2 separate regions of the Homo sapiens genome follow, and region 2 is linked to region 1. The links come from fine-mapping of genetic effects on gene expression. A gene starts in region 1. The other region holds a variant in brackets. All regions are shown on one strand. Distances are between the middles of the regions.

Region 1 (16,387 bases):
GTGCCATGAGCCTGTAGTATCAGCTACTGAGGAGACTGAGACAGGAGGATCCCTTGAACCTGGGAGGTTGAGCTTGTGGTAAGCTATGACTGTGCCACTGTACTCCAGTCTGGAGGACAGCAAGACCTTGTCTCAAAAAAGAATTTTCGGCTGGGTACAGTGGCTCATGCCTGTAATCCCAGCACTTTGGGCGGCCAAGGTGAGCGGATCATGAGGTCAGGAGATTGAGACCATCCTTGCTAACACGGTGAAATCCCGTCTCTACTAAAAATACAAAAAGTTAGCCAAGCATGGTGGCAGGCGCCTGTAGTCCCAGCTACTTGGGAGGCTGAGGCAGGAGAATGGTGTGAACCCGGGAGGCAGAGCTTGCAGTGAGCCGAGATCACGCCACTGCACTCCAGCCTGGGTGACAGAGCGAGACTCCGTCTCAAAAAAAAAAAAAAAAAGAAGATAAAATACTGCATATACCTAAAAGGGAACATTATGGAAATTACATTCAGTTACTAACATCTCCATTTGAGGTTCACTTACTCATTTGACAAATATTTGTTTTTTAATGTGCTATGAAAGATGAGAGGCATGCTGATTTGAAAGCAGCTTCTGTCTTTATGCTTAATTTGGTTGTTTTGTTTTGCTTTGTTTTGCTTTGTTTTGTTTTGTTTGAGGGTCTGGCCCTGTCATCTAGGCTGGAGTGCAGTGATAGGATCATAGCTCACTGTAGCCTTACCTCCTGAGCTCAAGCAGTTCTCCAACCTCAGCTTCTTGAGTAGCTAGGACTACAGGCACACGCCACCATACCTGGATAATTTTAAATTTTTTTTGTAGAGACGAGGTCTAACTATGTTTCCCAGACTGGTCTCAAACTCCTGGCGTCAAGCAATCCTCCCTCATTAGCCTCCTAAAATGTTAGGATTATAGACATATGAGCCACCACACCTGGCCTTTTTATACATACTTGGTTAAAGACAATTATTAGCAGGACACATGCTTTGATGAAGAAAGTACCCAGTGCTCTGACAGCATGTCTGAGGGCCTTAACCCGGACTTGGAGTTGTCTGTCTGAGAAGGCTTCCTGGAGAATGCTGTATAGGCTTAGCTCTTCCCTGAAAGAATGGAGGTGGGGGCTGGGCGTGGTGGCTCATGCCTGTAATCCCAGCACTTTGGGAGGCCGAGGCGGCAGATCACGAGGTCAGGAGATCGAGACCATCCTGGCTAACGCGGTGAAACCCCGTCTCTACTAAAAAAAAAATACAAAAAATTAGCCAGGCGTGGTGGCGGGCACCTGTAGTCCCAGCTACTCGGGAGGCTGAGGCAGGAGAATGGCATGAACCCGGCAGGCGGAGCTTGCGTCACTGCACTCCAGCCTGGGCGAGAGAGCAAGACTCCGTCTCAAAAAAAAAAAAAAAAAAAAAAAAAAAGAATGGAGGTGGAAGCAGAAGCGAAGAGGATTTCATGCAGAGAACATAGCACACGCAGAGGTATAGAAGCAAGAGAAATTCACATTTGAGGAATTGCTGGTGGTTCTATGTGGCTGGGGCATAGAATTTGAATAATGGGGTTAACTATTATAGTTAAGGTGGAAATAGAAGGACGTGTGGCTGAAGAAGAAGGTATGGGTTGGGTCCTGAAGGACCTTCTTAACTACATTCACATATATGACTTATCCTAAGGGTGATGGGAAACTTTTTAGGGAGGGTATGGCAGAATCAGGTGTCCATTTCAGAAAGATCAATCTGTGATGTGAATATATGTTGAGAGGCTGTTACGCTTAAGTCATGCAGGTAAGAGATTTTGGTGGTTTGAGCTAGGGTGGTAAAATGGGATGGGAGAGGGATGGACAGATTGGAGACTTGTTCAAGACTGGCTGTGGGGGAAAGAAATGGAGAGAAAGAGCTATCTGATCATTCGAAGGTATCCAACTTGGGAAACTGGAGAGGGACAGAGAAAATACAGAACTATGGGGGAAAATGGTTTCAGTTTGGACCCAAAATTGGAGGTTCCTGTGGGACACCCATGTCTGTGGAGTTCAGAAGAAAGACATCCCTGAGCTAGAGACACAGTTGAGATTCTGGAATCCTCAGCGCATATGGTAACTGCAGTATGGGAATGTTTGAGATGGCTGGTTGAGACACCGACAGTGCAAATGAAGCCACAAAGAAGGCAGTTGTAAGAAAGGTAGAAGGTAAATCAGAAGGTTGTTTTCAGCTAAAGACTCAGGTAGATGTACTGCGGTTCTCCATGTGTGAGGCACTATTCTAAGTGCTGGTGATAGAGCAGTAAGCAGGACAAAATTCCTGCTCCTGCATACCTTATGTTTGTGGTAGTTGGAGTAGAGCAAACAAATAAATATATAATTTTAGCCACTGAGAAAAAAAAACAAGGAAAAAATATACAAATACAGAATGATGGAAGGGAGGGGTCATTTTGGATGGGGTGATAAGAAATGACTTAAAAGCAGACGTTTGAGCAGAGACTTGAATAAACTGCAGAAATGAGAACATCTTGGCTTGGTAGTTTCAAAGAATGGAAAGAAGGCCAGAGTAGCTAGAGGACAGTGATGGAGGGACAGGATGGAGGGGCCAGCTCCTATTGGGCTTGGCAGGTCATGACAAAGAATTGGGGTTTTATTCTGAGTGTGATGGGAGGGAAGCCATTGGAGGGCTGACAGTGGGCAGGGGGTAGGGTGGCGTGATCTGAATTACATTTTACAGGGATCACTCTGGTTGCTATTGGGGAATCATTTGTTGGGCTGCCACAGAGGAAACAATGGAGGCCAGATAGGAGTCTGGGGCAGTCATTCAGGAGAGTAGGTGGTGGCTTGGATAAGGGGGGTGGGATGAGAAGTGGTTGGATTCAGGTGTGTGTGTGTGTGTGTGTGTGTGTGTGTGTGTGTGTGTATTTTTATTGTATTTTTTTTGGAGACAGGGTTTCACTCTATTGCTCAGGCTGGAGTGCAGTGGCACAATCTCGGCTCACTGCAACCTCCGCCTTCTAGGTTCAAGCGATTCTCCTGCCTCAGCCTCCAAGTAGCTAGGATTACAGGCCACCACACCTGGCTAATTTTTATATTTTTAATAGAGATGGGGTTTCACCATATTGGCCAAGCTGGTTTCGAACTCCTGACCTCAGGTGATCCACCTGCCCTGGCCTCCCAAAGCGCTGGGATTACAGGTGTGAGCCACTGCGTCCGACCTGATTCAGATACATTTTGAAGTGGGAGCTGAAAAGATTTGCTGCATGTTTGGATATATGGGTGTCAGGGAGAGAGAATAATCAAGGAACACTCCTAGGTTTGTACAGAGGGTCTCTGACTTACTATGGTTCGGCTTATACCTTTTTTTTTTTTTTTTTTTTTTGAGATGGAGTTTTGCTTTTGTTGCCCAGGCTGGAGTGCAATGGCATGATCTTGGCTCACTGCAACCTCTGTCTCCCGGATTCAAGCAATTGTCCTGCCTCAGCCTCCCAAGTAGCTGGGATTACAGGTGTGCGCTACCACGCCCAGCTAATTTTTTATTTTTAGTAGAGATAGGGTTTTACCATGTTGGTCAGGCTGGTCTCGAACTCCTGACCTCAAGTGATCCACCCGCCTCAGCCTCCCAAAGTGCTGGGATTACAGGTGTGAGCCACTGTGCCCCGGCCTCAGCTTATGATTTTTGGCGTTATGATGGTTCAAAAGCAACACACAATTCAGTAGAAACTGTGCTTTGAGTACAACCATTCTGTTTTTCATTTTCAGTACAGTATTTGGTAAATTACATGAGCTATTCAAAACTTTCTTATAAAATAGGCTTTGTGTTAGATAATTTTGTCCAACTGTAGGCTAACTTAAGTGTTCGAGCACGCTTAAGATAGGCTTGGCTAAGCTATGATGTTCAGTAGGTCAGGTGTATTAAATGCATTTTCTACTTAACGATTGTTCATCTGATGGTTTATCTGGACATGGCCCCATGGTAAGTCGAGCAGCATCTGTGCTTTAGCAATTGGGAAAACAGAAAGGAGCATGGCAGCTCACACCTGTAATTCCAGCAATTTGGGAAGTTGAGGTGGGAGGATTGCTTGAGCCCAGGAGTTTGAGACCAGTTTGGGCAAAATGGTGGGACACCCCCAACTCTACAGAAAATTTTTTTTACAAAGGCTCTACTCTACCTGACAAAATCTTATTCCTTAGTATTTAATTTCTCTTCTTAGGGAGAATTTAAATTTAATTAAGTAATTTAAATTAAAATTTTTTCCTGGCAGGGGTGGATAATGAAAAAAAGGTTGAGAAACACTGGCCTAGTGCAAGAACATGGCCTTTGGGAGTCACACAGGCTTGGTATGAATCCTGGCTCCACTACTTGGACACAGTGCTTAACCTCTCTAAGCTTCACTTTCATCATTTAAATGCCCACAGTATTAGCATAATAACCTTAGAGTTATTGGAAAAATTAAATGCAATGACGTGCCTGTTATATTGATAAATACTAATTTTCTTTCCCCTTTATCCCCGCTTTCAAGAATAGAGATTATTATAGTTAAGGAACTCCAGTAAACTGGGTAGAGACCAAATCAAGTGGGAATATGGCAGGCTTAAGCTTGTTGGAAGAAAAAGAAAACAGGACAAGGGGGCTGATTAAATATACGGAGATGAGTGTAAAGAAATAAGGGAGGCTGCTTGCAGTGGCTCACGCCTGTAATCCCAGCACTTTGGGAGGCCGAGGCTGGCGGATCACCTGAGGTCTGGAGTTCGAGACCAGCCTGGACAACATGGCGAAACCCCGTCTCTACTAAAAATTCAAAAATTAGCCGGGCGTGGTGGCGCACGCCTGTTAATCCCAGCTACTTGAGAGGCTGAAGCAGGAGAATTGCTTGAACACGGGAGACGGAGGTTGCAGTGAGCCGAGATCGCGCCACTGCACTCCAGCCTGGACGACAGTGTGAGACTCCATCTCGAAAAATAAAAAAGAAAAAGAAAAGAAATAGGGGAGAGCCCAAGGTAATTCTTAAGGGATTTGACACTCAAGGCAAAGCCACCACTAAATGTTCTTAGTGGACAGTGGACAATGACATCTGAGGAAGATTATTCTGGAGCCTGACATATTACACTGGAACAGAGGCCGGAGAAAGGAGCCCACATTAATTGTGGTGGACTTGGAATCTGAAGATCTGAGTGTATAAAATGTTGAACAATGAAAAGGTTGGGGAAATTAATTATGGTGCCTTTAATTTTGAAACATCATGCAATCAGTACAATTGTTTTGGAAGGATATTTGGTGGCACGGGAAAACAGAATAAAATGTAAGCATACTACAAAACAATACAAAGCCATTTTTGTCAAACGCCTATCTAGGTAGGAAATAGATTATCTCTGGGGTGGGATCTTTTCTTTTTCATAGTTTTCTGCATTTTTCAATTTTCCTACAAAAAGCTCGTGTTGCTTTTATAAGAAAAAAGTTATTTTCTGAAAGAACCTCTGGCGGAACTCAGATTTCCAGGGACCCACATGCCAGCACTATCCCAGCCTCGGGTGTCTGAGGTACCTAGACCAGAGGGTGTGGCCCTGGAGGTGTGAGACAGGGAAAGCTGGGCTGGGCCGGCCGCCCCTGCCCGGGGCAAGAGCAGCGTCGGGACCGGAGGACCAGTCGGGGGATGGGGCCGCAGAGGTGGCCGCGCGCCGGGAAGTGCTCAGGCCAGACCCTCCCCACTCGTTACACGCCCTGTGCTGGGCACGGGGAGGAGCAGGACGCCACCCTCTGGAACCACCCAGATCGCTGGGGCCTCCGAGAACCCGGAGGGCGGAAGGCCTGAGGGCCCCCTGCAGCCGCCTACTCCTCACCCCAGCCCTAAAGTAGCCGGCGGGGAACTGCGCCAGCCCGCGCGCCCGCCGAGCCTTCGGTGACTGACGGGAGGTGGGAATGTGGGCGGAGCCTCACGCCGGAGCTGTGATTGGAACAACCAACACCTCCCAATCTCTCCCAAGAGAGGGAGACAGCACCAGAGAGGGATGCGCAGAGGCGGGGGCTTAGAGGCCTCTACGTGATTGGCTAACAGCGCAGGGAGCCGGGCGCTGTCCCGATGATTGGCAGGCGCTAGACAGCCCTCGGAAACCGCCTTGGCTTCGCCCATTGGCATCCTGTGAGAGTAGGCGGGATTGGTTCATCGTGTGGTGCTGATGATTAGCTGGCCGCTGAGAGTTAGGGTGTTGGGAGAGAGTTGGAGGGGGACGGCGGGGGCTGCCGACTTCCTTCTTGTTATTGGCTGGTGAGGTGGGTGGGGGTGGTGCGACGGCCCAGCGGCTGCCTGGGATTGGTGGGGGCCGGCGTGAGTGACAGACAGGGGGGCGAGCTGCGCGACCAGCGGTTTGTTTTTCGGAGCGTTCCTGAGGTGGAGAACGGTGGCCGGACGGAGAGACTGCGGGTCTGAGGGACTGGCGGGCGGGCGGGCCGAGCGGCGCCGCCGAGGCCGGGCTGGGCCGAGCCCAGGAGCGCCCGGGATGTAGCGGGCCACCCTGCCGATGCCACAGCGCCCGGCCGCGGGCGGAGCCGGAGCCGGAGCCTGGGGAGGCGGCGGGGGCCCAGAGCGCAGCCCGCGCCCCCCGCGCGGAGCCAGGCCCGCTGCCGTCCCCGCCGCCCGGGCCCCCGGCATGCAGCCCCGGCTGCGGAGGTGACACTCACGGACCTTAGCCACCGCCGCCGCCATCGCCACCATGGGTAAGTGTCGCCACCGCCCCGGCCTGTGCCCGCGCTGCTTCGCGACGCCCCGCCCCAGGCTGAGGGAGGAGGACCCTGGGCCACCGCCTGACAGGCATGGACAGCCCGCCCGGCCCGGGGCTGCGGACCGCCGGCCGGCCGGCCGCCCGCCCCGCTCGCGCGCCGCGGCCCGGGCGGGGGTTCTGGCTCCGCGGGGCGGCCCGGCCGGCAGAGCCCGCTCGGCAGCCCTCCTTCTGGGCGGCGCGGCGGGCGCATCCCGGGGAAGCGGCGGCGGGACCGAGGGCCCGTGCTCCGCGGGGCAGCCTGGTCCGAACGAGCCGGACCGCGAGCCCGAGGGCGGGGGAGCAAGAGCGCAGTGTGGGGCCCGGGCTGGAGGCTGCCGCAGGCCCAGCTGCTGTTGTGTCTTTTCCTTGATTTGCTTTTTTTTCCTGCCTGTGTCATTTCCTTCCCTTTGCTCACACAGGCCGGCCTGTGAGAGTTCCCGGGGCTTGCTCTCCAGCCCTGTGCGCGCCCCAGCGCAGGGGGGAGGGCGTGCGGGGCTCGGCTAGGAGGCGATTAAACTGGAGCTGTGATCAAGCGCGCGGTTGACAAATGCGTGCTGCACGCAGATTGCTGGGGGTCAGGAGTTGGTCGGATGCTGCCAGTTAGAATTCACATCCTACTTTTTGAAAAATCCCGTTGCAGGGGTTTAATCCATTATTTTTTTCTTGCGGTATCCCTGAAATTATGTAACTTTTGAAAGAAACATTTGCTACACAAAAGAATTTCTCTGAAATCACTTCCTTTTTGTCAGTATTTACAATTTCTACTGTGAAGATGTAATCTAAGGAAAGCTTTTAATGTCTTCCGCACGTAGCATTTGAGTTGAATTATATTCCATATCCTTTTTGGTAGTTTAGCAAATGACTACTGGACTAGACTAAGAAATAACATTTTAAACGTTCTTTACTTCTCCTGCCCAGACAGGTGTTGTGATACTGTTGTCACAAGTTTTGCAAAATATTTGGTATTGCCCTAAATAATAATAAAAGGGTAAACTTCAGTGAGAGGATCGTTTGCAAAACGTTCCGTTGCTTCTGTGAAGTGCCCCATGTGAAGAGGGAGCCTTAATGTTTGCCTTGCCCTATAGCAAGGTCAAGTCCTTTTTGTAGGAGGTTAACTGTACGCTATGTCAAATTCGCCAGATATTGTTTTGTGACCCATCTCTACACCCTGGCTTTGAATGAATTGCCTTGTTCTAGTTCATGCTGTCCCTCATACAGTATGAGAAGGGTTTGTTCATTTGCTGGGCTTACTGTTTCCTTCTCATGCTTTCCTTCAGAAGTGCGTGCTCTTCTGAGGGAAGGTCTGCTGTGAGAGTGGACATAAAAGGAACCCAGTAAGGCCTGGTATTTAAATATATAATTGAAGAAATGTTTATTGAATTTTTTTATAGATGAGACACAGAATTCTTGTCTACCCCAGGATTCAAACATTTATCTTGTATTATAGATTTTGAATAAATCTTCGAATTGATTTATGAGCCTGTATTGTGATAGTCTTTCTTACAAGTCTTTTTTCTTGTCCTGTGGGGGCAGCTGTTAGTCCCAAAGGAGAGTGTGAAATACTTAAGGGTATGTAGACCATCCACTTCCTACTTTGTTGACTGCTACACCAGTTAGAGTGCCCACATGTGTTGACTACATCTCATTATCTAACATGAAAATAGATATGAACCTGTTTTCACATTTCAAGACATTTTCAAAAAGTTTATAAGTGTGTGAGTATATGGAGACCAATGATGGGGAGGAAGGAAACTATATAGGCTGGGTCTAGAGCCCCAAAGAAAAAAGGGCCAGGACCTCAGGATCTTCTCATTTGTCCCCACATCAGTTGTCCTCCTGTCAGTTTTACGTGAAGACACATGTAAAAGGAACATGCAAGAGGAATTAACTTCCCTGGTGGCTGCAGTATATTAGGCAAGCTAGTTTAAGAACCACTGCCCTAGCTTTCTTCACTTTCCCCCATACAATTCTCTCCATCTTTTTTGTGAGGGGAAAGTAGATGACCTTGATACACTGTTAGAGCTAATATTGAATTCTTCTTGACACCTGGCTGTTCAATTTGCTTTGTATAGAGCTCATTGAGGATATGTATACACAGATACATTCACACACAGTCTCTCTCTTAAATACTAGTTTCCATTTTGGTGATGAAAATTTGAATTTCCAGTTTAGTTAGTTTGCTTTTAGTTGCTGTAGTTCTAAATAAACTCAAAGGATTGATAAGAGAGAAACATAGACTTCTTAGTATTTTAGTTATACTTGTTAAACTCCAGCCTCATGAAGAAAGGACTAAAACTTGAGTCTCTGCCCTGCAGGTTCTTTGGTTAAGTAACAGTCACATTTTCCTGAGCTGTTCTAAGCCCAAGACTGAAGCCTGTTTGACAACTTGGGTTAATAAAAACATGTCAGATTTTATATTGTCTGTTAGCCCCAATGAATTTCTAGTGGAAATTATTTATCTCTGTAAATAATAGGAAATTTTTTTTTTTGCTTTGATACTATGTGGCTATAAAAAATTGGGATTGACTGGTTGTTTTTTCTTGGTCACTCCAGAATTCATTTCCAGATTTAGTAATCATAGTGGCAAATGCTGTTCATAATACCTGAGATTGTTTATGTGGTCTTTTTATAAACGCAGTCTGAAACTTTATATATCACTGAAAAATATGTAACAACTTGGAAATGCTACAGGAAACTATAGTGAATGGAGTACAGGATTACAGATGATCTGGTTCTGGTTTGAAGTCAGAATTATTGTGACTTACAGACACCTTGTCTAGGGTTCCAAGGCTGTTAGGAGCTCCCTGTTAGAATAGTCTCAATTCAGTTTGGCTAGAATCTGACCACCTATGTAGACTCTGAATAGTTAGCAGCTGTTTTGATTGAAATTTGAATCACAGTTTAATAAATCAACATGGCTATGTCATTACTAGATTTCTGATATTTTTAAAAATGACAGTTGGATTTTAAAACTGAATTTTAGGTTGGGCATGGTGGCTTACACCTATAATCCCAGCACTTTGGGAAGCTGAGACTGGTAGATCGCTTGAGCCCAGGAGTTCGAGAGCAGCCTGGGCAACATGGTGAAACCCTGTCTCTACTAAAAACACACAAACTTAGCTGGGCGTAGTGGCATGCCCCTATAGTCCCAGTTACCCAGGAGACCGAGGTGGGAAGATCATCTGAGCCTGGGAGGTTGAGGCTGCAGTGAACCATGATCGTGTCACTGCACTCCAGCCCAGGCAACAAGAGTGAGAGACCCTGTCTCTAAAACAAAAAACAAACAAAAAATAGCTGAATTTTAGGCATCTGTAAAAAGTAAGTATCTGTCCAACTGAGCATTACTTAGGGGAATACACAGAGGATAAGATGAGGTTTTTCTGGTTCTATGGAAGCTGTTAATTTATTCTTTGCCCATTTGTTGAATGCCTCCTATGTGCCAGGCATAGTATTAAGCCCTGTGCCTGTGTTATCCTGTCCTCAAGAAGTTACAGTTAGGTAAGGTGAAGCAGAAACATGTAAACAATTAAGTGCAAAAGTGTGTAAAGATATACAGGAGAGAGATCAATTCTGTCGTTTTGGTATTGACACATGTAATTCTATAGTCTCCAGTCCTTTGGGTTAATTTCACTAAACGTTAAAATGTAGTGGTGATATATATTGATTCTTATGAGGAATAAATGGCCTACTTTATAATATGTGTTTTAAGAATTTGAACCATCAATTAATATTGAATGCCTATTATATCTTAGAACAGAAAAACGCCAGCATTTGACTTTGAGATTTAGCAAAGGTTCAACCATTTCTTGAAGGATAAAAGTTTCTTATGAATTGAGGGTCTGGCCTTATTGCATATACTCATTGTAAAATGATGTTTGCCTGGGCATGGACAGGGTGGAGGCAGTGGAAGTATGTGGAATGTCATGAAGAGAAAGTAAAATCTGACTCAGGGACACTGAAGCACAGACTCTCCTGAGTGGGCAGTGCGATCAGACGATCTGGTGGAGCTGGGTAGAACATTGTCAAGATGAAGAAATAACATCATTAGTTAAATGAAACAAAACAAAGATTAAAACATTACTTTGGGGATTGTATCTATGGAAAAGAGAGAGAGTGTGTGGCATAGTAAACAGACACCATACGGGATAACAATGTTTATTAGAGAATGTGGTGCTTCTGGCAACTTTTCTGGGTTGTTAGCCAAGGGAACTCACAAATGGGAAGTGCCTTAAGACCCTGCTTTGAGATACAAGTAATAGCTCAGTCTGGAAGAGTGGCTTCCTGCTGGAGCTAAAGAGAGGAGTATGTTGCCTGGCAGCCTCCATACCACAGGTTGGGGTACCAGGAGAAGAAAAACTACATGCCACTGGGGAATTACTTAAAACTGCCTAAGAGCTTCTACTTTTTAAGCCTGAACTCTAATCCTTGTTTGATAGATCCTTTTCTAGTTCCATGAATACTCCTCCTTTTCCTAGATTCTTAACCTCTTAATCTCTAAAATTAACCTCTTTCTCCTTATGCTTCTTCCTGGTAGCTTCTAAGTGTGTCAGACCACTCCCACTCTCAGGAAATCTTTTCAAAGTTATAAGCACACTATTACGCTACCTCAACTTGTTCACGTGTAAAGTTCACAAATACTTTTTTTTTTTTTTTGGGGTGGAGTTTTGCCCTGTCACCTAGGCTTGAGTGCAGTGGCACGATCTCAGTTCACTGCAACCTCTGCCTCCCGGGTTCAAGCAATTCTCCTACCTCAGCCTCCCGAGTAGCTGGGATTACAGGCACCGGCCACCATGCCTGGCTAATTTTGTATTTTTAGTAGAGACAGGGTTTCACCATGTTGGCCAGGCTAGTCTTGAACTCCTGACTGCAGCTGATCCACCCTCCTCGGCCTCCCAAAGTGCTAGGATTACAGGCATGAGCCATCGTGCCTGGCCATGACTAATTTTTTGTATTTTTTGTAGAGATGGGGTTTTGCCATGTTGCCCAAGCTGGTCTCAAACTCCTGGGATCAAGTGATATGCCCGCCTTGGCTTCCCAGAATGTTGGACTTACAGGTGTGAGCCAATGCGCCCGGCCTGTCACTCTTATTTTCTTCAATCCTTTTTTTTTTTTTCTGAGACAGAGTCTCTACTCTGTCGCCCAGGCTGGAATGTGTTGGCATAGTCTTGGCTCACTGCAACCTCTGCCTCCCAGGTTCAAGCTATTCCCATGCCTCAGCCTCCACAGTAGTTGGGATTACAGGTGTGCACCACCACGCCCAGCTAATTTTTGTATTTTTAGTAGTGATGAGGTTTCACCATGTTGACCAGGCTGGTCTTGAACTCCTGACCTCAGGTGATCTGCCTGCCTCGGCCTCCCAAAGTGCTGAGATTACAGGTGTGAGCCACCACGCCCAGCCAGCTTGCTTTTCTTAAAGAATCTTTAGTCTGTTAACAATTATGTAAAATCATCCATATAACCTCTTATATAACCATATAAGCTACTCATATTTAAAAATATTTATTTTTATACATTTGTATTTATATACTCTGGTTTATATATTGTCTAATTCTGTCTTTTTTTTTTTTTTTGAGACGGAGTTTCGCTCTTGTTGCCCAGGCTGGAGTGCAATGGCACCATCTTGGCTCACCGCAACCTCCGCCTCCCAGCTTGAAGCAGTTCTCCTGCCTCAGCCTCCCGTGTAGATGGGATTACAGGCATGTGCCACCACGCCCAGCTAATTTTGTAGTTTTAGTAGAGACGGGGTTTCTCCATGTTGGTCAGGCTGTTCTCGAACCCCTAACCTCAGGTGATCCACCTGCCTTAGCCTCCCAAAGTGCTGGGATTACAGGCGTGAGCCCCTGGGCCCTGCCAATTCTATCTTTTTTTTCATACAACTTTGTATTTGTGTGTTGTTTATCTTTTTATCCCTAGAGTTTGAACACCTTGAAATATCTTTTAAAACTTTCTAATGTGTAATACAAGATAAGTATTCAGTAAATTGTTGTTAATGATTTATAAAAGTTCAGTAATAAAATTAAGTATTAGGGTAGATTAAATGGCCTCCAGTCTTTTTCCATTGACCTTTTCTCATTGATGATAATAATAGCCAGCATTTTTTTAGCATTACTGTGTTAGGTACCATAAGAAATAATTCGTAGGTTTTCTGTTGCTTTTAACTCCCACAGCAGCTTTGTGAAATGATGCTTTATCTCCATTTTACAGATGAGGAAATTGAGGTTTGGAGAGAATAAATGATTTGCTCAGGGCCTCCTTACCAAATTTTTCTGACTCTGAAGTTCATATTCCTAACTGCTTCAGTCTAAGAAAGTTGTTATTTGTTGTTTTTTTTTTTGAGATGGAGTCTCGCCCTGTCGCCATGCTGGAGTTCAGTAGCGCTATCTCAGCTCACACCAACCTCCGCCTCCTGTGTTCAGGCAATTCTCCTGCCTCAGCCTCCCAAGTAGCTGGGATTACAGGCGCACACCACCACGCGCAGTTAATTTTTTTGTATTTTTAGTAGAGACGGGGTTTCACCATGTTGGCCAGGCTGGTTTCGAACTCCTGACCTCAAGTGATCCACGCATCTTGGCCTCCCAAAGTGCTAGAATTACAGGCGTGAGCCTCTGCGCCCAGCCTGTTATTTGTTTTTAAAAGTTTTGTTTGTTTTTAAAGAATGCCACATTGGAGGAGTGCTGATAATTCAGTTAGTCTCAGTCCATACCACAGAGATAACTGGCTTGTGGCAGCCAAGTGTGCATAGTGATGTTGCTTTTTAGAAGGAAAAAAAACAAAAACAAAACCTCAATCCAGGAAGAAATGCCTAAAAGAGCCACTTGATTTACTTCCTGTCTTTATACATGTCCTCTGAAGTATCAGTTGAAGAACCTGTCTACCTCTAGGAATGTATTTTACTTTGACACAAAATTAGATTCTATAACCCTGATTCACTTGTGTCAGTTGTCCCAGATTTCAGATGACAGTGCCAAACTTTTCCACTAGTGTGTTCTCAGCTCTGGAACTACTAAACAAGTTTGTTCATTAAGTAATGCCAGGAATTGGTTAGCTTCCTGGAAACAGAATTTGTCAACCTGATAAACCAGCTCTTATAATAGCGTCATCTTATACAGAATTAGAAATGATTTCTTCAGTCATACTTGTGGATCTGACTTGAAAAGTGGTGTGTGTATGTGTGTGCCTGTATGTGTATTCACATCCATCTTTGTTCAATATCTGAGTTGAAAGAACTGAAAATTCTCAATACTTAGGGTGGTTAATGTTGTTACTGATAACTCCTTGCATTCCGCTTTTAGGAGTATTGTTGGATGCTCCTCAGAAAACACTTAAACCTAGTCATAATCCTCCTTGTATTGATCCCAATTTATTATTACAGTTGGCCCAATTTTATATATATTTAATAATATCTAAGCCATTTAATATATAAACCTATACATATTATATATAAGCCAATCTTCCTAGCTTAGATGTTATGCTCTAGTTTTTAAAGTTTGGTTGTGAGGATAAAAATCAAAACAAAAAACCAAGTTCCCTTTTTGTTTTTGGGACAGGGTCTCACTGTCGCCCAGGCTGAAGTACAGTGGCATGATCATGGCTCACTGCAGCCTCAACCTCCTGGGCTCAAGTGATCCTTCCACCTAAGCCTCTCAAGTAGCTGAGCCTACAGCGTGCACCACCATGCCCAGCTAATTTTTTGTATTTTTTGTAGAATGTAGTTTTGCCATGTTGCCCAGTCTGGTCTCGAACTCCTGGGCTCAAGCAATCCACCTGCCTCAGCCTCCCAAAGTGCTGGGATTACAGGCATGAGCCACCCTGTCCAGCCAGGTTCCCTTCTTTAAAGAAGCTATAGGGAAATTGTAGAAGGTATAAAATAATTGATGGGATATATATGTGTTAATTTGACAGATGTCTTTTTGTAGATACCCACTTTCTCCTCATTCATTATCCCCTTTACTGCATGCTTTCTATATTACAGCTATGTCACTCTCATACATACTTTTGTATATGTTTTGAAGTGGAATCATATGGGAAGTTATGCTCCTGGTGGTTTTCCTGCAAGTTTTAAATCTAATTTTACTTTCCTGAACAAGCAAAAACCTCTTTATAGGCAACTTTGTCCTTTTCTGTACCTCGTCAGAGGGCATATAGGGCACCAGAGCAGATTTCGTCTAGGAAGAGGGGAGAGGCAAATAAGGTGAGGGGCCAGGCACGGTGGCTTATGTCTGTAATCCCAGCATTTTGGGAGGCTAAGGAGGGAGGATCGCTTGAGCTCAGGTGTTTGAAATCAGCCTGGGCAACATGGTGAAACCCTCGCTCAATAAAAAATACAAAAATTAGCAGGGCATGGTGGTGTGCACCTGTAGTCCCAGCTACTCTGGAGGCTGAGGTGGAGGATTGTTTGAGCCTGGGGGTGGAGGAGGCTGCAGTGAGCTGTGATTGCACCACTGCACTCTAGCCTGGGCAACAGAGTGAAACCCTGTTTCAGTCAGTCAGTCAATCAGTTAATCAGTAGTGGGAGAAGAGACTTGAGCAGTTTTACTTCCTACATTTCATGCTGTTCGTTTCTTTCCACAGGGTATTAGAATATTTCCAAGGGACAGTGATAAAGGGTAGAAGATAGGCACTCTCTTTGGGTGGAATCTTTTGTATTTGCTTCTTTTAAGGTGTGCCCCAAGTCCCCAAATGGCTCAGTTGTCACCAAAGCAAGTGTAACAACTCATCCCTCATGTTCCCTTCACGATCAACAGATTTATTCATTTTCAATCTCCAAATGCTATTTGAATGGGCAAAGATCTCTTAAAGGACCTGGGAAAAATTTGTACAACATGGAATTGGACTGGTTTGTGTTCTGGGTTTTGGCCAGTTGTTTTCAATGTATGAGAACTCTAGTACTCCATGCTATTTCAAGAAAAGGGGATTAAAAGTAATGCCAGTAAGGTGGAGACAATGCATTGCTTGGTCAGCTTAGGGAGGAAAAACAATAGAACTACCCTTTGACTTCCCCATGGGAAGTAGTAGGCCTATAAACTTGTAAAGAGTTGTGGGGGTTGCTGGTGGTGGCGGCATTCAAATGCTAGGCTTGTAAAACAACTTCTGTTCAAAGCAGTTACCTGAGGCCCTTATTTGGTACCTTTTAAAGTGTGCTCTCCTCCTTATGATGCTTTAAGAATAAGTCTGGGACTGACACTGTGCCATAATCCTCTCTCTATGGATTCATCTTTTCATTCAGTACCATATTACATTGTACTGTGTTCTTCACTTCAATTTTTCATCTATTTTTCCTGGTTAAGTTTCTCTGGCACTGGACCAACTGCCCTGTTTGAGCGTGTCCCTTCCCTGCAATGAATTGGTAAATATTGCTGCAGGAAATCTGATTGGAGGGCTATTAAGAAACCATTAAAGGCCAGGCATGGTGGCCCACACCTGTATGTAATCTTAGCACTTTGGGAGGCCGAGGCAGGAGGATCACTGGAGTCCAGGAGTTGGAGACCAGCCTGGGCAACATGGGGAGACCCCGTCTCTACAAAAAATAAAAAAATCATCCAGGCATGGTGGTGCATGCCTGTGTTCCCAGCTACTCAGGAGGCTGATGTGGGAAGGTCACTTGAGCCCCAGAGTTGGAGGCTGCAGTGAGCTATGATCACGCCACTGCACTCC
Region 2 (16,387 bases), 25 kb after region 1:
ATTGCAAAAATTAGGATAGCTTCGATAAAAAGCATGTACTCTGTTAACAAATAGACTCCAAATCTCAGTGATTTAACACAGTATTCCCAGTACAAGGAGGGGGAGAACAGTGTTGCCCAGAGTTACTTAGGAACCTGGATTGAGGGAGACTCCTCTGTCCTAGGACATGTGCCTGCCAGGGAAGAGAGTATAGAACTTGATTCTGTTCCTAGCTCTTGGTCAGAACTAGGGACAAACCCCCCAAACTAACTTTTAAGAGGTCCAGGAAATACTTGAGCATTCTGCCTCTACCACAGTAGTACTGTCTCAGACACCCCCCACTCCACTGCCTGGGGAGGCATCACATGATTTATAGAACATCTACCATACTACCCCTCTAAATCCAAAACATGCATTCTGAAACACTTTTGGCCCCAAGAATTTTGGCTAAAGGATAATAGACCTGTATTACCATTTACCAACCACTTGTATATCAGGTACTGTTCTAATCACTTTACCCAATTATATGATTTAATTCTTTTGATAATTCCGTAAATTGGATACTATCATTCTCACTTTACAGATGAGGAAACTAAGTTATAGGTTAAGTATGAGGCTGCAGTGCCATTACTTTTTTTTTTTTTTTCCTGAGATGGAGTCTTGTTCTGTCACCCAGGCTGGAGTGCAGTGGCGTGATCTCGGCTTGCTGCAACCTCCACTTCCTGGGTTCAAGCAATTCTCCTGCCTCAGCCTCCCGAATAGCTGGGATTACAGGTGCCCGCCACCACACCCGGCTAATTTTTGTATGTTTAGTAGAGACGGGGTTTCACCATGTTGGCCAGGCTGGTCTCGAACTCCTGACCTCGTGATCTGCCCTCCTTGACCTCCCAAAGTGCTGGGATTACAAGGCCACCACGCCCAGCCTAGTGCAGTTAGGTTTAATGGCAAAAACTGCAATTACTTTTGCACCAACCTAAGTTCGAGGTTACACAGCTAGGAAGTTGTAGAGCCAAGATTTGAAGCAGGCAGTTGGACTCCAGTGCTACATTCTTAACAACTACATATTGGCCTCAGATACGTGGCAAGCAGATGAGCCTTGCTTCAGTGATTGGGGCTACATATAGAGATTGAGGAATCATCTATTTAGAGGCCCACTGAGAAGTTGTATGCAGAGCAGGAGAAAGCCAGAAGTCAGAAGTCGCAAGGTTGAGGAATGGTCATGTGTTTGGGGAGGGGTGGGAGAGGGCATGAACAAGAGGAACCAGCAAAGAAGCAGAAGTGGTCAGAGTGGTAGCAGGTTCCCTGTGCTGGGATAGAGTCACAGAAGTTGGAAATAGAGTTGGCCACCCACCAGTGTGAAATGCCTCAGAGAGGACAAGAAGAATGGCTGGCCGGAAGGCATTGAATCAAATTATCTTTATCTGAACTTCCCTTATCTATGGCTTATTATGGTCAACCTGATGGGTGAAATTCAGATTTAGGGACTCAGAAGATTTGGGCATATCATGTGGTTCATGGAAGCTTGTAAGGCTGTCATGGCATCAAAGAAGCATCTTTGTTTACACTGCTTTTTAGTCACAGGCTTGGTTAGTCTTAAGTAGCAGTGATTTGTGGTTTGGAACAAAAGTTTAATTCCCTTTCTGAATAAATTCATGTAGAGCAGTGCTTAGGTTATGGCTCGTTATGAAATAAATTTAGTTCCTTCATTTCCATAAAGGCACTGAGGAGATTCCTTCATTAGTATATCTAAATATAATGTTGTCCCAGGGCTGGGGCAGTGGCTCACACCTGTAGTCCAAGCACTTTGGGAGGCCAAGGCGGGTGGATCACTTGAGGTCAAGAGTTCAAGACCAACCTGGCCAGGGGTGAAACCTTGTCTCTACTAAAAATACAAAAATCATTCAGGCATGGTGGTGCATGCCTGTAATCCCAGCTACTTGGGAGGCTGAGGCAGGAGAATCACTTGAACCCAGGAGACAGAGGCTGCAGTGAGCCGAGATCGCGCCACTGCACTCCAGCCTGGGCAACAGAGTGAGACTCTGTCTCAAAAAATAAAAAAATAAATAAAATGTTGTCCCAGTTTAAGAATGAAAGCTGTTATGTGTGTGTGTGTTTTTAACCTCGTTTTTTTGTTTTGTTTTGTTTTGTTTCAATATATTTTTGAGACAGAATCCTTGTTCTATCACCCAGGCTGGAGTCCAGTGGCGTGATCATGGCTCACTGCAACCTCAAGCCCCCCGGGCTCAAGCAATCCTCTTGCCTCAGCTTTCCAAGTAGCTAAGACTACAGGCGTGTGCCACCACAACCAGCTAATTTTTGTATTTTTTGTAGAGATGGCGTTTTGCCATGTCGCCCAGACTGATCTCAAACTCCTGGGCTCAAGCAATCCTCAAACCTCGGCTTCCCAAAGTGTTGGGGTTAGAAGCGTGAGCTACCACACCTGGCCTAAAACTTCTAAAAATGAAAAAAAAAAAAAATTAAACAAAAACAAAAACCTGAGGAAATATGTGAGTAAACTATGGACTTTAGTTGATATATCAATATTGATTAATTAATTGTAACAAAAAGAAATATACCATACTAATGTAAGATATTAATAATAGGGGAAACTGGCTGGGTGTGGTGGCTCATGCCTGTAATCCCAGCACTTTGGGAGGCTGAGGTGGACAGATTGCTTGAGCCCAGGAGTTTGAGACTAGCTGGGCAACATGGCAAGACCCCATCTCTACAAAAAGTTACAAATTAGCCCAGTGTGGCGACATGTGCCTGTTTGTAGTCCCAGCTACATGGGAGGCTGAGGTAGGAGAATCAATCACCTGTGCCCGGGAAGTCAAGGCTGCAGTGAGCCGTGATCGTACCACTGCACTCCAGCTTGGGTGGCAGGAGTAAGACCCTGTCTCAATAATAACAATAATAATAATAGGGGAAACTGTACAAAGGGGAGAAGGATATATCAGAACTCTGCTCTGTATGCTCAGTTTTTCTGTAAATGTAAAACTCTTCTAAAAATAAAATTTATTAATTAAAATAATAGAGCTACAGCAAGGTATGCTGGGCTGTAGGCAGGAACAGGTAAAAGGATGTATAACCCTCCCACAGGGGCAGACAGGACTACAAACTTCATAGAGCACTTGGGATACTCCAGATCCAGTTGAGGAAATAGTGTGGGAAGCTGGAGACCACACATCAGAGCATGGCAACTCTGCTTTAGAGGACTCTTGTCATGGTAACTGTTTAGAATTTCAGGGGAACGAGAAAAAGAAGATAGTGAAAAACTGCTCTCAGTGCCTGTGTGACACTTAAGTTGTAGCATAGCATGGTAGTTAAGAGTCAGGCTTCCAGGGTTCAAATCCTACCTCTTCCTTTACAAGCGATATGACCTGACCTTGGGGGAACTTACTTAATCTTATTGTAACTCAGTTATTTTCTGTAAAATAGGGATAATAATGGTACTTGTTTTGAGGATCAGTTTAATTAATATATGTAAACATGCTTAGAACAATGCTTGGTTTGTGGTAAATGCTCAATAAACGTTAGCTATTATCATTATTATTAATGGATAAAGTGGTCCATGTGTTATCTTACAGGATAAGAAGGCTATATCAGGGCTGTATATTTTTTGAGACAGGGTCTCACTCTGTCACCCAGACTGGAGTGCAACAGCATTGTCTCAGCTCACTGCAACCTCTGCCTCCTAGGTTCAAGCGATTCTCCTGCCTCAGCCTCCCGAGTAGCTGGGATTACAGGTGTGCGCCATTACTCACGGCACACTTTTTGTATTTTAAGTAGAGATGAGGTTTCACCATGTTGGCCAGGCTGGTCTCAAACTCCTGACCTCCAGTGATCTGCCCGCCTCGGCCTCCCAAGGGGCTGGGATTACAGTTGTGAGCCACTGTGCCTCTGGCCTTTAATTGCCATTTTAAATGAATAAAGTAAATTTTCTCAGTTTTAATTTTGAATATGGTAAATACCAATAGATATAATCCACATAAGCAAAAGCTCTTTGGGGTCTTTAATAATTTTTACAGTGTAAATTAGAACCACTCTTGTAATTCATTGAACTGGAAGAGAAGTCTAGTCCCTTAATACCTTGGGAAAAGGGAGTCCTTTAGGCATCTACCCTTCCTTTCAAACTCACTCCCTTTTCTGTTGTCTGTTTGCTATGTGTTCCTCATCTTCAAATACTCTTAAGTCCTCTTTCTTCCAAGCCACAGCCTATTAATTTGTCTTCTTCAAAATAATTTTTCTTCATCGACTATGACTTCATTCTCTCCTTTATCTCTATTATTTGCTGGTTTCCTGCCCATCTTACCTTTCTTTTCCTCTACACCTGTTCTTCTGTAATATCTCTCTCCTTTCCCTGTCATTTTTTAAACTCCCTCAAGTTGTTTGTTTGCCCTTTTGCAATATCTCTTCCTCTTTAATTTGTTCTTTGTCATTTTAACATTTCTACTTCCTCTTATTTCTCATATTTATACTTCTGTTCTTCAATTCATTCAACCACTTAACAAATATTATTAAGCACAAATATTATATGCCATTTCCTTTGCCTGGCACTGGGGATATAGAAACATGATAGACCTCGGGAGGCCGAGGCAAGAGAATCGTTTGAACCCGGGAGACGGAGGTTGCGGTGAGCCGATATTGTGCTACTGCACTCCAACCTGGGTGACAGAGTGACACTCCGTCTCAAAAAAAAAAAGAAACATGATAGACCTGATCTCTGCTCTCCTGCAGTTTACAGGCTACTCATGATGGTCATTTTGGAAAAGGCTGGGAACAGTGTATAAGATCCTACTTTACCCCCAGTGGGGTAGCTTTGGGAGGGTTTTGGGAAATCAATGATAGTGGTACCAGTGGCAGCAGCAGCAAAAACCAAATATTGCATGTCTATTATGTGTCAGGTATTTTACTTACATTTAGTTGTTGTAAGAACTCTGCAAGGTATGTTTAGGCTTACTCTACAGATGGAAAAACTAAGACTCACAGAGGATAAGTAACTTGCCTGTGGTCATATAGCTAGAAAGCATCAGCAGCAAAATTTCTTTTTTGTCTTCAGTCACATCAGCCAACAAGGAAATGTATCCTGGTCAGGAGGTGATAGAGTGGGAGAAACTTCCAGAGCCAATTGTAGAAATAGGGTGTGTATGAAGCTAGAAACAGCATGTCACAGCATAGCAACTGAGCTGGGCAGCCACCTAGGGATCTTACCCTAAGAGCTTTGTTGTCCCTGATGTTAGAACTGGAAGTTTTAACTCATTGGAAAGGAATGCCCATGCCCATCTGGGAAGAGAAGCTGGACCAGGAGCCATCAGGGATGTATGCCTAATGTTGCTAACGAACTGCCCAAGGCTTACTTGGCAATGGCAGGAGTGACACATTCCAGAGAATTCTCTAACCTGTCTATCATTCTTTTTGGCAGAGTGACGTCAGAATCAAGTTCGAGCACAACGGGGAGAGGCGGTAAGTCTGCCTTCTGATGAGTAGCTGTGTTCATGTATGCCAAAGTTCTCAGATAGCATTGAGTTCATGGAAGTCATTCCCCTGTCCTGATCCCTGTGGGGCCACTGGCTGGGTAATAGGGTGGATTGGGCATAAAGGGAGGAAAGTTTCACCCTTGTCTTGGCCTACTAATTGAACCTTGTTCCTATCTTAGCATTGGAAGCCATTTCAACTGCTGATGTTTTACTGTTCTGCTCTATTCTGCTGCTGTGAGGTCTGACATTTTATTAGGAAGTGAGGACTCTGGCCCTACTCAGAGTCATGGCTTTCAGACACACTGACACTGTGTCACCTGTGGGCATTAGAGGGAGGGCAGGATTCTCCTGTGATATGGTGCCATTACTATTCCCAGTAGAGCAGCCCTGGCTTTGTCCACATCAAGGGTCAGGTTGGTGAATTAGAAGTTTCTTCATGATGTCTCTAGGTCATGGGAAGCTGCACCAAGTCCATCAGTTGTAAAAGACTTTAGCTCCTTTGAGGACATAGAAAGAGGGAGTTTTTCGGTCTGTGTTCTGAATCTTACCTCATTAGGGAAGTGAAAGTAGTGTTACAAAACTCTTCTGTCCTTTTCTCCATTGTCAGTATTTTCATTATTGTTATTTTTTGTGGGAAGCCAAGGTAGAAGTTCTCAGTAGAAAAAATGTGACTGTACTTAATTTCTGAAGTTATTTAAGGAAAACATTCAGAAAGCATACAGAACTCTGGACATGGGATATTTGGGACCTTGCATGTTTGTGCATGTGCGGCACATGTACACATAAATGTGCCTTTCGGTGTTTTTTCCACTCTTTGCCTTTCTTTCCCATTGATATACTACCCCCTGCCACCCTCAGCTTTCCTTTGCTTTGAGCATTTGGACAGGTGAAGAGCATACCCATTAGTATGAGGTCTTCCTACTTTAAGAGTCTCACCACAGGACCTTAGTACCTCTAAACATTCTTGATTCTGGTAGTTCTCTACAGTTGGTACCTTTCAGCCTACTTTGCAGCTGGCTCCAGAGGAGACCTGTGGCTACTATTCTCCCTTTAAAATACACATTCACAAGCCTACAAGGTTGTCAGAGGCAACCCGGTGGAAGCATTGTGGAAAGTGTGGTCTGCAGAGCCAGGGTCCTTCTGCTCCTATGTGAGTTCCAGGCCTGGAGGGAGGAAGGTCTGAGCTCTGTCCCCAGCTGCTCTTCCTGTGTCCTGCCATTAGCAGAGAAGTTAAATTGTCACTTCACTGTTGCTACTTTTCACATTTTCCAACCTGAGTTTTAAAGGGATGGCCAAACTCAGAGCAGCAGAGTTTTCAATCAAAAGCACAATTGTGTTGGAGCCCAATTACGCAGTTAGGCTCTCCTGAATTCCCTGTTCCCAAAGTGGTATGCAGTTACAGTGAGCAGGCTTACACTGAGAAAGTGTATGTGTTTGGTTTCAGAGAAGCTGCCAGATTGAAACCACAAATATTTAAGGTGGTCAGGCAGGAATGGCCTTCTGAAGCCCTGAGCAGCAGAACGTTGCTTATCAAGGTTTTGAAAATGGTGCATTCTCTTTTTACGGAGCTGTTTTCAGGAGCCATGGCATTTCAGTGTTTGTGTACTATATGTGGAATTGAGGACTTTATAAAGTTGGTGCAGGGAAGCCAACAGAGTTAGTACTCTGTGCCACACAGCTCTAGTTTCGTGTATTTCACGTCAGGATTTTGTAGAGAATGTCATTATGGGCATTTTAAACTTTTTACCTGGAATATGGGTAGTATTTATCTAAATGTAGGCCCTTATAGAATTAGAATTCACAGGAAAGAGGAAAGAAGTCATGACTTTTCCCACTTATCCATGACAGGTATTCATTCTGGTGGGCTGACTTTCCCTTTACTTTGAGAATATGGGGACCAGACCCCTGACTGTCCTCCCTTTTGGCCCCAGGAGGGCTGGGGAGAAGGATTGTAGATTAAGATCTCCTTCCCTTTGGAAATGTTAATGACACACTGATGGGGGTGGTTGCATGGGTGTTAGACCTCTCTTTGAAGCACTGGCCTAAAAATGCCTGTTATTCAATAGGATGGCAGCAGCTTAGATCTTACCCAATCTGGAAGTCCTGGCCTCTGATCTTGACCAGACTTTCAAGCTGCTTTTGTGGGTTTTGAATGGCTCATTGCTAGGCCAAATGCAGAAGAATTTATCTCTGATCATGATCCTTTTTCAATAGTGTGCTAGGGACATCTGAGTGGACTTCTGGTATTTTATCCAGAAAGGCTGGACCCTTTTGCACTGTTGCTGAGGCCTTGAAGAAGGAGGGGTATGATTTGCTATTAGGCATTAATAGAAAGCTATCCTCTCAAAAGGCTTCAGAAACACCTCTATCTAGAGAATCCATCTAGATAGCACCTAACAGTATCACTGCTTGGGACAGTTGATTTGGAAGAAAAAAATATAAGAATTACAGTCTGGGCCGGGTGTGGTGGCTCACGCCTGTAATCCCAGCACTTTGGGAGGCTGAGGCGGGCAGATAAAAAGGTCAGGAGTTCGAGACCAATATGGTGAAACCCCGTCTCTACTAAAAATACAAAAATTAGCC[G/A]GGCGTGGTGGCCGGCGTCTGTAGTCCCAGCTACTCGGGAGGCTAAGGCAGGAGAATCGCTTGAACCTGGGAGGTGGAAGTTGCAGTGAGCCGAGTTCGAGCCACTGCACTCCAGCCTGGGGGACAGAGCGAGACTCCATCACACACACACAGAAAAAAGAATTACAGTCTCAATGGGTTTCCTAGTGGAGATGAAACTAATTTGGTTAGCAGTATAATTTCCAAAAATGAAAGGTGGTGATGGACAAAGGAAAAAAACAGGAAGGAATTACCTTCTTGAGATGTTAGGCTTTGCGTGAAGGATAGATTATGGTTTATATTAATAGTCTATCAATGTTGCCCTGTAGAACTTTCTGCTATAATGGAAATGTTCTATATCTGTGCTGTCCAGTACACATATGGCTGCTGTACATGTGGCTAATGAGCACTTGAAATGTGGTTGGTGAGACAGAGGAACCTTTTTCTTTTAAGACAGGGTCTCTGGGCCAGGTACAGAGGCTCACGCCTGTAATCCCAGCACTTTGGGAGGCTGAGGCAGGAAGATTACCTGAGGTCAGGAGTTCCAGACCAGCCTGGCCAACATGGTGAAACCCTGTCTCTACTAAAAATATAAAAATTAGCTGGGTGTGGTGGTGCACACCTGTAGTCCCAGCTACTCGGGAGGCTGAGGCAGGAGAATGGCATGAACCTGGGAGGTGGAGCTTGCAGTGAGCCGAGATCGTGCCACTTCAGCCTAGGCGACAGAGCGAGACTCCATCTCAAAAAAAAAAAAAAAAAGTAGACAGGATCTCTGTTGCTCAGGCTGGAGTACAGTGGTGTGATCGTGGAGCCTCCACCTCCCAGGCTCAAGCAGTCCTCCTGCCTCAACCTCCCAGGTGCCTGGGACAACAGGCACACTGCCATAGCCAGGTAATTTTTGTAGAGACAGGGTTTGCCATTTTGCCCAGGCTGGTTTCAAACTCCTGGACTCAAGCTATCCACCTGCCTTGGCCTTCCAGAGTTCTGGGATTATAGGTGTGAGCCACTGTACCTGTTCAGGAACCAATTTTCAGTTTAATCAATTTAAATTTAAATAGTCATATGTGGCTAATGGCTGCCATATTGAATAGTGCAGATGCAGTTCTAGATGATGAAGGCTTTTATGCTTCTCACTGATTTGAGCCAACCTGTTACAGAAGAACATTAAAGAAATTATCTGGTCAGATTTTATTAAAACCCAATGGTTTAGATCCCTCTCTCTTGTGGCTTATTGCTTCTTCCTCTGGTTACACCACTTCCCACTCTGGGGGAGCAGGGAAGATGAGAAAGAACCACACACTTCTTCCTCTCAGCATGGAAGAGGACAAGAACTGCGCAGGCCCATGGCTGAATACTGCTTGCTCCAACACACACTAGTCTGATTTTATCCTGCTTAGGTGTACTAAGAGATGAAGGTTGTTTTAATAGGCATTTCTCCAGTCACATTGGGCATCTTTTCATGTGTTTTATTAGCCACTTACAATTCTTCTGTGAATTGTCTAATCTTTTGCCTTTTCTATTAGATTGTCTTTTATTGATTTTTTACAAGTATTTTCTCAAAGTTTGATATTTGTTTAACTTTGTTGATGGCTTATTTTGCAATCAGAAGTTTATTTATTTATTTTTTTGAGACAGAGTCTCTTGCTCTGTTGCCCAGGCTGGAGTGCAGTGGTGTGATCTCAGCTCACTGCAACCTCTGCCTCCTGGGTTCAAGTGATTCTCCTGCTTCAGCCTCCCAAGTAGCTGGGATTGCAGGGCATGTGCCACCACACCCAGGTAATTTTTAAATTTTTAGTAGAGATGGGGTTTTCCCATGTTGGCCAGGCTAGTCTTGAACTCCGGACCTCAGGTGATCCACCCACCGCAGCCTCCCAAAGCGCTGGGATTACAGGCATGAGCCATCTTGCCTGGCTTGTCTTCTGTATTTTATGTTATGGTTAGGAAGACCTTCTCTCTCTCTGTCTCTTATAGAGAGAGAGAGAGAGAGAGAGAGAGAGAGAGAGAGAGTTTTTTTTTTTTTTAGACAGGGTCTCATTCTGTTGCCTAGGCTGGAGTATAGTGGCATGATCACAGCTCACTACAGCCCTGATCTCCTGGGCTCAAGTGATCCTCCCACCTCAGCCTCCCAAGTAGCTTAGACTATAAGCATGTACTATCACACCTGGCTAATTTTTTAAAAAAATGTTTAGTAGGCAGGAGGGCTCACTATCTTGCCCAGGCTGATCTTGAGCTCCTAGCCTCAAGCGAGCCTCCTACCTTGGCCTCCCAAAGTGCTTGGCCCCCAAGATTTTTTTTTAATTCTGTATTTTCTTATATAAATTTGAGAGTATGTGTGTGTATGAGTTTCTTTCTTATATTCTTTTCTTCAGTTATCTCTGATTATTTTTAGTCATTTCTGTTCTAGAGTATTGGGTTGAACCCATATAAAATTGCCACTTTTATATATCAAAAATGGTCGGCCATCAGTAGTCTCATATAGTTCAACCTAATACATTCATTCAAACTTTTTATTGGCCAAGCATGGTGGCTTACACCTATAATACCAGCACTTTGGAAGGCCGACGTGGGAGGATTGCCAGAGTTCAGAGGTTTGAGATCAGCCTGGGCAACTTATTGAGGCCCATCCCTACAAAAAATAAAAAATTAGTCGGTGCATGCCAGTAGTCCCAGCTACTTGGGAAGCTGAGGCAGGAGGATTGCGTGAGCCCCAGAGGTTGAAGCTGCAGTGAGCCGTTATCATTGCCACTGCACTCCAGCCTAGGTGACAGAACGAGACTCTGTTTTGAAACAAACAAACAAAAAAACCCCACAACTTTTTATTATGGAAATTTCAAGCACACACAAAAGTAGACAGAGTATTAAACTGAACTCCCATGGACCTGTCACCCAGCTTCAACATTACTAACATTTTCCCAGTCTTGTTTTATCAATTCCCACTTTTAAATTTTGCTGAAGTATTTAATAACAAATCAGATTTTACACCTCTTTGGATGACTCCTTACTCTACCTTATATTTGTAGAAATTGTTCTTTGAACTGACCTAATGAGTCTCTCCAGAAAATCTTCAATGTCAATACTAGTTACATGCACAGATATGTCACTGGTTAAGAAAACTGATCAGGCATATCACTAACTCAAGGGGGAATTCCTGTGACTCTGTAGTAGAAAATCTTAATTCTGAGGAAAATCAGTATGGAGATTCTTATGGCATCTCAAAGATGAACGATGGAAAAGACCTTTCAAGTCCTAGAGTTGAGTCCCTTAGGAGTTGAGGCCATGTTTTCAGGACTGCTACTCCAGTCTGTACGTTTTCTACCTTATTTCCTAAATAATTTTTTTCTTTCAACTTTTATTTAAGTTCTGGGGTACATGTGTAGGATGTGCAGGTTTGTTACATAGTTAAACATGTGCCATGGTGGTTTGCTGCACAGATTAATCCATCACCTATATATTAAGCCCAGTATGCATTAGCTATTCTTCCTGATACTCTCTCTTCCCCAAGTCCCAACAGCCCCAGTGTGTATTGTTCCCCCTCCATGTGTCTGTGTGTTCTCATCGTTGGAACATAGTTTTTAAATCTAGTGGCCTCTTCTGTCATTGGCAGAAGAGTCTAAGCTGAAGTGGTAGATGAATGGTTGGGATTGAGCAATAGTTGTGGGTACTGTTGTCAAACCTGATAGATGCTCAGAGGGTGAAAGGTAACGGTAGAGAAGAGGAAAAAAGGAAACAATCGGGAAAAGGCAAATTGAGTGAAAGAAAACAGAATCCTATGTTGAGAAGAAAGGAAGAATATACTCAGACCATTGCTTTTTAAACCCTACGTTTTAAGTATACAATTAACCAACCTTTCTTTCTGTTTCTTTTCAGAATTATAGCGTTCAGCCGGCCTGTGAAATATGAAGATGTGGAGCACAAGGTGACAACAGTATTTGGACAACCTCTTGATCTACATTACATGAACAATGAGGTGAGAAGGCAGATGGATGGGGCAGGGACAAGAGGGGCAGATGCCTACCTTTTTTCTCTCTGTTTACCAGAGCCTTTAAAGTTTGTTCCTCTAATATCATCTGCAGGTTTTCATTTTCTAGACCCCCTTTTCTTAATTCCAACAACTGTGGGATCTCTGTTTTTTACTACATGGGAGATTACTCAGCCATCTCAGCCATCTCCATTCCCCCTACTCATTCAGTGCAGATAGCTCTAATATTCCATGGTGGAATCAGGTATGGTACCAGGGCTAGGGCTTATACTGTCTCCTTTACATTTTGTAGGAGTATCTTATTTTTTTCCCCCCAGCACAGCCTTAACAAGAAGCAGAGGGTTTAGCAGGGGCTAGGGAGGTGTGAAAAACCAGTGAGTAGGTCATCTATTACAGTCATAAATGCAGGATTCTTCTCTTAGAGTTTCTTCTGATTGGAGCTTATTTGTTTCAAATGTTAGCACCTGCTCCAATAAGTTCTTTAACTCCTCCTCCTCCTCACTCCACCCCAACGGTCCTTATTTACTTCTACTTTGAATATCACCCAGGAAGGAATTCTTTTGAATGTCAGTTTCTGGGCTGCTTTCCCAGCTCCAAGAAGAATATTACAGACTACAATCAGCTTAGGCTGGTGCTTTGCAGTGTATTTATGCTGAGTAAAGAATGTGTACCTCGAGGAAATTGAGTTAGGGGTGCAAGACAAGAAAGCTGGGCAACATCATGACCCTTTGAGAACCAGATCATCACTGTGTAGTTTTATTTTATTTGATGAGGAGTTAAAATTTTTCTTTTAGTAAAGACTTTTCTGAATCATTTAGTACTCTTTTCTTTTTCAGTTAATATTTCCATTAAGAATTCCTGATGTTTCTTTATTCTAAAGCCAAATATAAATCATTGTTATTATTTTAGTTCATACATGTCTTAACATACTCTACTAATGTTAATGATCAGGAGTTGACTAACTTACATTTGATTAATTTAAAATCCCTCAATTCCGTTCTTTTGTTTGCCCTTTAAACCCTGCACTGTCAAGATCTAAGAATCCCAAATGAAAAATCTACTGAGATTTTATTTATTTATCTCTTTGTAATTATAGTTTTATTGAGATTAAAAAATTTATCATCTAAAAGTATACCATTCAGTGGTTTTTAGTATGCTGATAGAGTTGTGCAACCAACACCGCTATCTAATTCCAGAACATTTTCTTTTTTTTTCTGAGACAGAGTCTTGCTCTGTCGCCCATGCTGGAGTGCAGTGGTGCAAACACGGCTCACTGCAGCCTTGACCTCCTGCGCTCAAGCGATTCCCCCACCTCAGCCACCCAAGTAGCTGGGACTACAGGCACACACCATCACACCCAGCTAATTTTTTTGTATTTTTTATGGAGGCAGGGTTTCACCATGTTGCCCAGGCTGGTCTCAAATTCCTGAGCTCAAGCGATCTGCCTGCCTCAGCCTCCCAAAGTGCTGGGATTACAGGCATGAGCCACCGCACTTGGCCTCCAGAACATTTTTATCACTCCAAAGAGAAACCTGTACCTATTAGCAGTTATTCCCCTTTCTCTCCTCTTCTCAGCTCTTGGTAAGCACTTATCTTTCTGTCTCTTTGGATTTACCTATTCTGAACATTTCGTGTAGTGCAATCATACAGTACGTGACCTTTTTTGTCTGGCTTCTTTGACTAAGCGTATGTTTTCAACGGTCATCTGTGCATGTTGTCAGTATGTCATTCTATTTTATGGCTGAATAATAAATATTCCATTTATGGATATACCACATTTTGTGTATCTGTTCATCTATTGATAGACATTTGGGTTGTTTTCATTTTTTGGTGATTAAATAGTGCTGCTATGAGCATTTGTTTACAAGTGTTTAAATGAACATATGTTTTCAATTCTGTAAGGTATATACCTAGGCGTGGAATTGCTGGGTCATAAGATAACTCTAACTTTTTGAGGAACTGCCCAGATTTTCTATAATGGTTGCACAATTTTACAGTCCCACTAGCAACTTATGAGTGTATTAGTCTATTCTCACTCTGCTGTAAAAAACTGCCCGAGACTGGGTAATTTATAAAAGAAATAGGTGGCTAGGTGCAGTGACTCACGCCTGTTAATCCCAGCACTTTGGGAGGCTGAGGCGGGCAGATCACGAGGTCAGGAGTTCGAGACCAGCCTGGCCAACATGGTGAAACGCCGTCTCTGCTGCTGATATAAAAATTAGCTGGGCATGGTGGTGCACACCTGTAGTCCCAGCTACTCAGGAGCCTGAGGCAGAAGAATTACTTGAACCCGAGAGGCGGAGGTTGCAATGAGCCGAGATTGCAGCTCATTTGAGACAGAGTTGAGACTCTGTCTCAAAAAACGATTAAAAAAAATTATTTTATTTTATTTTTAAATAAACAAATAAAGGAAAGAGGTTTAATTGACTCACAGTTCAGCATGGCTGGGGAGGCCTAGCAAACTTAACAATCATGATGGAAGGGAAAGCAAACACATCCTTCACATGGCGACAGGAGAGAGAAGGGCCAAGCAAATGAGAAAAAGCCTCCTATAAAACCATCAGATCTCGTGAGAACTCACTCACTATCAGGAGAACAGCAGCATGGGATAACCACCCCCGTGATTCAGTTACCTCCCACTGGGTCCCTGCCACAACACATGGGGATTATTGGAACTACAAATCAATATGGGATTTGGATGGGGACACAGCCAAACCATATCAGTGAGGGCTGCAGTTTCTCCACCATCCTTACCAACATTTGTTATTTTCTTCTTTTAATAGCCATCCTAGTAGGTGTAAAGTGATATGTCACTGTGAGTTTTGTTTTTGTTTTTGGTTTGAGACAGGGTTTCACTTTGTTGCGCAGGCCAGAGTGCAGTGTGCAATCATGGCTCACTGCAGCCTTGACATCCTGGGTTCAAGTGATCCCCCCACCTCAGTTTCCCCAGTAACTGGGACAATAAGCACATGCCACCACACTGAGCTAATTAAAAATAAATTTTTGTAGAGATGGGGGTCTCACTATTTTGCCCAGGCTGGTCTTAAACTCCTGGCCTCAAGTGAGCCTCCCGCCACAGCCTCCTAGGATTACAGGTGTGAGCCACTATCCCCAGCCTACTTGGTTTTTTTTATTTAACTCCCTTCCCAACCATTCTTATTTATTCCCACTTTGAATGTCACACAGGAAGAAATTCTTTTGCAATATAATATGATTTGCAGAACATTCTCCCATTCCATAAGTAGTTTTGAGATTTTATTTTAAATATGTACTGTTTTTGGCGAGGCGCGATGGTTCATGCCTGTAATGCCAGCACTTTGGGAGGCTGAGGCAGGCAGATCTCTTGAGCTCAGGAGTTCAAGACCAGCCTGGACAACATGGTGAAACCCCATCTCTACAAAAAGTACAAAAATTAGTCGGGTGTGGTGCCTCATGCCTGTAATCCCAGCTACTTGAGAGGCTGAGGCAGGAGGATCACTTTAGCCCAGGAGGCGGAGGTTGCTGTGAGCCGAGATTGTGCCACTGCACTCCAGCCTGGGCAACAGAGGGAGATGCTGTCTCAAAAAAAAAAATCTTGTATTATAAATTGGGAACTGTGTAAGTTAATTGGACTTTTGCTTGATTTTGTGTTTACCATACGTGTATAAAATCTGACCAGGCGTGGTGGCTCACTCCTGTAATCCCACCAGTTTGGTAGGCTGAGGTGGGCAGATTACTTGAGGTCAGGAGTTCAAGACCAACCTGACCAATATGGCAAAACCCAGTCTCTACTAAAAAAAAAAAAAAATTAGTGGGGAGTGGTGGTGTGCACCTGTAATCCCGGCTACTCTGGAGGCTAAGGCAGGAGAATCACTTGAACCCAGGAGGTGGACATTGCAGCAAGTTGTGATTGTGCCACTGCACTCCAGCCTGGGCGACAGAGTAAGACTCTGTCTCCAAAAAATAAGAAGAATAAGAATAAGATCTGACATTTGCTAGGTCCTAAGCAAGGCATACGTTTGCATCTTATGAATCTCTTAATACCAAGTATTCATAACATGCTCTGCTTTTTGCAGTGAGTGAGACTTATTTGTACCCTCAGGGACCTTCTATTTAATATTTCACTGGAACGTATGAGTGTATTAGTCTGTTCTCACGCTGCTGTAAAAAACTGCCCAAGACTGGGTAATTTATAAAGGAAAGAGGTTTAATTGACTCACAGTTCAGCATGGCTGGGGAGGCCTCAGGAAACTTACAATCATGACGGAAGGGAAAGCAAACACATCCTTCATATGGCGACAGGAGAGAGAAGTGCCAAGCAAAGGGGGAAAAGCTCCGTGAGAATGGAGGAGGTAGTTTTCAGGTTCTAGTC

Which allele goes with the higher level. Alleles are on the strand shown, and positions count from the first base shown. SD is a standard deviation of normalised expression in the study named.
For the expression in spleen of the gene that starts at base 6,343 in region 1, allele G in region 2 goes with a lower level than allele A (moderate effect, 0.49 SD a copy in GTEx).

What was found. PIP is the estimated chance that this variant, and not a neighbour inherited with it, causes the effect.
Region 2: its variant is the best candidate, but not a certain one, in a credible set for the expression of MAP3K3 in spleen (GTEx, PIP 0.77).

Annotation. Positions count from the first base shown.
Region 1 is chr17:63,616,075-63,632,461 of GRCh38, forward strand. It overlaps MAP3K3 (mitogen-activated protein kinase kinase kinase 3), which reads left to right and starts at 6,343. Exons shown (of 16, transcript NM_002401.5): 1 at 6,343-6,689. The coding sequence starts at 6,686. RefSeq lists silencers at 5,584-5,653, 6,264-6,653, 6,744-6,803, 7,044-7,093.
Region 2 is chr17:63,640,633-63,657,019 of GRCh38, forward strand. It overlaps MAP3K3 (mitogen-activated protein kinase kinase kinase 3), which reads left to right. Exons shown (of 16, transcript NM_002401.5): 3 at 5,402-5,442; 4 at 11,925-12,024. Among named protein-coding and RNA genes, the nearest start is that of MAP3K3, 26 kb to the left of the region's middle. RefSeq lists enhancers at 6,411-6,460, 14,733-14,782. The variant G/A (reference allele first, on the strand shown) is at 8,040.